2 linked regions of the Homo sapiens genome follow. The protein of the gene in region 2 purifies or fractionates together with the protein of the main gene of each other region. This does not show direct contact. Each region holds a gene or a part of one and is shown on either strand. Other genes may lie near its edges.

The links. Proteins that work in one complex are often made in the same cells at the same time.
Region 1: the proteins of LRRC17 (region 2) and BCL7B purify together in Homo sapiens (affinity purification with mass spectrometry; one large-scale study listed by BioGRID and IntAct). This does not show direct contact.

The regions. Positions count from the first base shown.
Region 1 is NC_000007.14:73,538,161-73,540,731, reverse strand, and holds part of BCL7B (B-cell CLL/lymphoma 7 protein family member B), read left to right. Parts: intron 1-679; coding exon 680-850; intron 851-2,571. UniProt on the Homo sapiens protein: Positive regulator of apoptosis. Plays a role in the Wnt signaling pathway, negatively regulating the expression of Wnt signaling components CTNNB1 and HMGA1.
Region 2 is NC_000007.14:102,911,421-102,915,174, forward strand, and holds the start of LRRC17 (leucine-rich repeat-containing protein 17 isoform 1 precursor), read left to right. Parts: upstream 1-1,579; 5' UTR 1,580-1,665; coding exon of another isoform or gene 1,666-1,795; exon of another isoform or gene 1,796-1,974; intron 1,975-3,754. Other genes in the region: FBXL13 (F-box and leucine-rich repeat protein 13), read right to left, coding at 1,666-1,795. UniProt on the Homo sapiens protein: Involved in bone homeostasis. Acts as a negative regulator of RANKL-induced osteoclast precursor differentiation from bone marrow precursors.

The DNA.
Region 1 (2,571 bases), about 29 Mb from region 2:
CAGCCTCCTGAGTAGCTGGAACTACAGGTGCCCACCACCACAGCCGGCTAATTTTTTGTAATTTTAGTAGAGACGGGGTTTCACCGTGTTAGCCAGGATGGTCTCGATGTCCTGACCTTGTGATCTGCCCACCTCGGCCTCCCAAAGTGCTGGGATTACAGGCGTGAGCCACCGTGCCTGGCCTCGGCCTGGTAACTCTTAAGTTTTGCACCTTGATGGTGACTTTAAGCCTTCAGGCAGAACTCCCAGGTGCTAATCCGTCAGTCCGGCAGCCGAAGCCTGAGCTCACCACCTTCAGACACCACCAGCCTCCTTCAGATGCCCAAGGATGCCTGACAAATGTCATTTTCTACACATCTTATGATGTGAGAAGGATTGAGAAGTACTGACCAGAGACACAGCTACATCCCTCCCTTCCACAAGCTGCAATCAGTGGATAATAAAGAAGAGTTTAATAAGCATATCCTGACCTTCCTAAAGTGTAATGTTGCATAAACATAAAGATTCTGGCTGCCTCTGGTGCTTAGAATCTATGTCGTGTAGGCCGGGCACAATGATTATTATACTCAGTTGTATCCTTGGCTGCCTAAAGTGATGCCAGGCCCTTGGCTCTGTCCAGAGTTCCTCTTGAGGAAAATGACCACGCTCAGCTGCTGCCTTTGTTCTGTTTGGTTTTCAGACGAAAACAGCAACCAGAGTTCCGTGTCTGACGTCTATCAGCTTAAGGTGGACAGCAGCACCAACTCAAGCCCCAGCCCCCAGCAGAGTGAGTCCCTGAGCCCAGCACACACCTCCGACTTCCGCACGGATGACTCCCAGCCCCCAACGCTGGGCCAGGAGATCCTGGAGGGTGAGTCGTGGTTGGCCGAGGATGAGTTTCCTAGAAGGGCCTTGCTTTCTGCTCTTGTTGTGTCTCGTCTTTAGAGTAACAGGCTCGAGAGAGCACCTCAGAGCCAGGCAGCACCAAGCCCTTTCTCGATAGCTTAGGAATGATTATAGTTTCCCCTTTCACAGAGGGAAGGGAGAAAACAAGCATTAGAGTTGCGTGCCAGGCTGTGTGGAAGGAACTTGAGTATTTGACGCCTGCTATAATTCTCTCAAAAATCCTGTGAGGTGGCAGCTATTGTCTTCTTTTACAGATGAGGAAAATGGACATTCAAAGCTTAGAAAGGTTAAATTGGGCTGGGCATGGTGGCTCACACCTGTAATCCCAGCACTTTGGGAGGTCGAGGTGAGCGGGTCACTTGAGGCCAGGAGTTCAAGACCAGCCTGACCAACATGGCAAAACCGTCTCTACTAAAAACATAAAAAATTTAGTTGGGCGTGGTGGCATGTGCCTGTAATCCCAGCTACTCCGGAGGCTGAGGCAGAAGAATCACTTGAACCCAAGAAGCAGAGGTTACAGTGAGCTGAGATCACACCAGTGTATTCTTGCCTGGGCAACAGAGTGAGACTCCATCTCAAAAAAAAAAGACCTGGCGCGGTGGCTCACACCTGTAATCCCAGCACTTTGGGAGGCCGAAGTGGGTGGATCACCTGAGGTCAAGAGTTAGAGACCAGCCTGACCAACATGGTGAAACCCCATCTCTACTAAAAATACAAAAATTAGCCAGGCATGGTGGCGCAAGCCTGTAATCCCAGCTACTCGGGAGGCTGAGGCAGGAGAATCACTTAAACCCAGGAGGCAGAGGTTGCAGTGAGCCAAGATCGCACCAGGGCACTCCAGCCTGGCGACAGAGCTAGACTTCATCTCAAAAAAAAACAGAGAAAGGTTAAATCGCTTGTCTGAGATCACATAGCCAGTCTAGTAACTGTTGGAATGAATGTCACTTTAAGTCCTTCTATTTTCAGCATTTATGCTGTCTGCATTACATGCTAAATTTTTTTCTTTTCTTTTTTTTTTTTTTTTTTTTTTTAAAGAGATAGGGTCTTGCTCTGTTGCCCAGGCTAGAATGCAGTGGCTGAATCCTAGCTCACTGCAGTCTTGAACTCCTGGGGTCAAGTGATCCTCTTGCCTCAGACTCCGTAGTAGTAGGACTGTAAGCCTTTGCCACCATGCCTGGCTTTCTTTTAATTTTCTGTAGAAATGGAGTCTCACTATGTTGCCCAGGCTGGTCTTGAACTCCTGGGCTTCAAGTGATCCTCCCACCTCAGCCTCCAGAGTAGCTGGGATTATAGGTGTGAGCCACCATGCCCGACCCAGGTTTCTTGTTATAATATGGATATATAGATGTGTCTTAGGCCCTTGTTACCTTCTCCTGTGCTGTGACCTGTTAACAGCCAACTACAAAATGGAACTTGTTTCTCCATGGGAAATGCCAATTGTAGTTAATATTTATTGTGTTCTTACTATTTGGCATGTGCTGTTCTTAGCTCCTGTGTTTTATTACTTCATCTCGTCCTCATAGCAACTCTCAGAAAACTGGGAGATTGAGTTAGAGTTGTGATGTTTGGGCTAGAGGATGACAAGATGAGCTGCTTTGTCGGTTCCAGATATCTCCAGCCCAGCAGAGATGGCCCTCTGCAGTCTAGCCGTATTTTGCCCTTCCACCATTCTTGGCTGTGACCTGG
Region 2 (3,754 bases):
GCTTATCAGTGGGATATGTCAAGCACATTAAGTTGTTCCTGAGTTTGCAAATATTTTTCTCTGTGATTGGGCCATTGGCATTTGCTAATTGGTGCCCATCAAAGTTAGGCTTCTACCCACCCACAGGAACTGAGAGATATCTTCTTTGATGATTATATATCAAAGGGATAGATCCCAGGTCCTTGAGGAAGACTTTCCTGAGTTGTAAAACTGTCAAGAAGCTTTTGTTAAAAAGACATCTCAAAGTAGGCAGAGAAAGAACTTATAATTCCAAGTTTTCTAAAACAAATGCTCTAAGAAACAAGAAAACAAGAAGTCAGGGCCTAGAGTCAGTAAGAAGCTGGTCTAAAATTCAGTCATGCTGAGGAGAACGTCAATGCCATCTCAGTCATAAAGTTATGGTAGATGTTGATGTTTAAAAAGCTACACATCAGCAGATCAGTTTTAAACAAATATGAATGTTAGATGTTTACAGCCCTAACTTAGAATCCTCCCCTCCTTGCCCCAACTCCCTCCAGACCACCCAGGGCATCAGGATACCACAAGATGTCAGTGGAGGTGACTAGGTAAGAATTCTATCCATTCAAGAACCCTGGGGGAGAAACCCATGCTGCCCCTGTATTTCCCACTATCCCAGGGAACTCTGCCTGCCCCAGTATCTAGCAACAGATGCTTAAAACTGTACTAGTACCATGTGCTTTCATCAGCTGTGCAAACTTGGGCAACTTATTCAACCACCCTGAGCCTTGGTCTCTTCATTTGTAAATAAGCATAGTAAATACATACCACCACAGCACTGTATCAGAAGTAAATCTGATCTGTGTATAGCACTCAACACAATGCTTGGCATATGGTAATGACTCAAGAAATGATAACTATCAATATTTCAGCCAGTTCTCACCTATGCTATTATTCTCATAGAATAATGAACATACTATGACACCAAATTAATAAAATACACAGAGAGGCAGAAGAAAATAAGTTAAAAGAATTATGGCTTAAATCTTTTGAAATTAAAGCAGAAGAAACTATCAATGAGGCAGTAGCTACATCCAAAGCGCCATGCCCTATCCTCTGCAACTTGATCCAATTTTCTGCCCAACTTTCCAAGTCCTGTTCCCTCAAACTTAAAATATTTTCCCACGCAGATCTCAAATCTTCATGTTATTCAGCCCAACGGTGTAATGCAATTTTTTAAATTATGAGTTTTTGTTGTATTTTCTTTTCCTATTTATCACTTATAGCATTTTACCCCCCCCCCCCCAAAAAAAAACCCATGTGGGAGTTAATTGACTTTTCAGGAATCCCATGCAAAATTCTCCCTCAAAACATTCTCTTTGTTTGTGTCTTGGTAGCAACTCCAGAGTTTTCAGGACTTGGACTCTGCTTTAGACTTGTGCTCAGACTGTCTCCACAAAAGTGGTCCGTTTCCTCATCCAATGAGCTCTGCCTGTTTGTCTGTGTGACACTCCAGTGGAAGGAAGCCAAGAGCCTATAATAGCGATCCTGGGGAAAATTTCAGCAGCTGGGGCCATGTAATTTAAAACCTCTGAAAAGTGTGCTGCGGTCCGTGCACAGCATTAGTATAACGTGAGGGCTGAATGCAGCCCATTCTCTGGAGAACTTCCTCACACACCGCAGCAAAGAGAAGACTGAAAGACAAACCTGGGTGCAGCCAGAGAGGTCCAGATAGATGAGCTTGTGGCATCCATTCCCCAAGTTCAGGTACTGTAAGCCTTTGTCTGTGAACCGTCTGCAATAAGCCAAACTAAGATTCTGTAAGTTGTGGAAGTGCCTGAAAAGACAAAAGAGAGGAAGGAAAGTATTATACTTCCGTTGTTCTCTCAAATCTTTCTTAAGCCACTATGACAAAGAAAACTGTAAATTCAACTCTTCTTCTTGCAGATGTTCAACATTTAACTTTACTGTTAACTCTCTACCTGTTAATTAAAGGAGACTACAGTGTTATATAAGGTAACACACAATACATTTAATACCTTGTAATACATTTCAAGTGAAAGTATTAATAGTTCAATAATATTTGCCTAGATATTTAAGAAAGTTGACTGGGATAAAGCTTTTTTGGTGTGTGTGAGGTGGGGGAGGCAATCATATTGTTTGGAAGTGAAACCAAATTTGCAGAGTGTATTGTTGCTTTTAGGTTTTATCTCTGGAGTACCAAAATAATGTGCAAAATATATAAAAGGACAAATCCTTTGTAAACATTTAAATGGAGACTGTTACAGGAGAGTGAGGATTTGGGACAGAAGGCAAAACTGAATATGACCATGCTCTTAAAATAGATCTGATAAGCAAATGAGTTTAAAAAATAGGTTTAAATATGCATGAGTTTGTGACAGTTTCATTATTATAGTTAAAGAAAGACTAATTGATATGCAGAGTTTAAGCATGGATTAAGAAGACCAGTTTGCAAATAAGCAGGCAACACATGAGAAGAATCAAAAGCAACATCAGAGACTATAAATCTCGCTGGAGTTGAAACAGATTAAATATGGTATTACCACAATGACCAAAATGACAGCTTCCAGAAAAAAGTAGGGTAGTTAGGATGAGCCTGTACTACCATACGAGGGCTCGCAGTTTGAGGACACTCCGTGGACAATTTCCCAAGCCCTCCAAAGCCTGGAACTTTTTTTTGAGACGAAGTTTCGCTCTTGTTGCCCAGCTGGAGTACAATGGTGAGATCTTGGCTCACTGCAACCTCCTCCCCACTCCCCCAACCCCTGGTTCAAGCGATTCTCCTGCCTCAGCCTCCCAAGTGGCTGGGATTACAGGCGCGTGCCAACATGTCCAGCTAATTTTTGTATTTTTAGTAGAGACAGGGTTTCACCATGTTGGCCAGGCTGGCCTCGAACTCCTGACCTCAGGTGATCCACCCGCCTTGGCCTCCCAAAGTGCTCGGAACAGGCATGAGCCACCGTGCCCAGAAAGCCTGGCACTTTTTAAGAGGTCAAGGATTCCCACTACTATCTGCTCTTCTAATGGAATTAGCAATCATGCTCTTAGTTTGTGATATGCAACAGCTTAATAGCAAATTAGAAAGCAAAAAGAATGAAAAGTGAGGAGAAAATGCTTCTCTGCCTCTCAAAATCACACAGGTGAATAAAGTTTACCTCCCATAAATGGGAAATAAGATATACAAGCACTGACCATTAATCAGATTTTGAAAAACACATCTATATGATATAATGATTTGCATGCCATAGCGAATTACTTGATTCAGAACACACATCCCGATCTGGGAAGGGCTGTGTACGTGAGATTCGACAGAGCGAGGGGGAAGGCTTTGGACTCACCAGTGACTAGGTGGGCAGGGCCTGAAGGAGAAAGCAGTGCTAATATCCCAAAGACACGCCCCCTCTCTTGGGGCTGTCGAGTGGACTGAGCTGTGCTAAAGTTTTGGAAATGCGTTATCTTCCTCTCCCTGGGGTACACCCTGTGATTCAACTGAGTACAATTTTCTTGGGGTGGGGAGAGGCACACCAGGGTGTCATTTCTAGCAATCCTTTAGCTTTATAATCTGTAGAAAGGAGTTGTGAGGCAGGCCGCGTGACACAGTGCAAAATACACAAGGTTTTTGAATCCGGCCAAATGAGATGTAAATCCAAGCCCTGACACTTACTGCAACCTCCCTAATCTCTCAGAGATTGTTTTCTCATTTGTTAAGTGGAGATTAAAATATTTTTTTTTTTTTTTTTTTTACACTGATCAACTGTGGGGCCTCCAGCTTTCC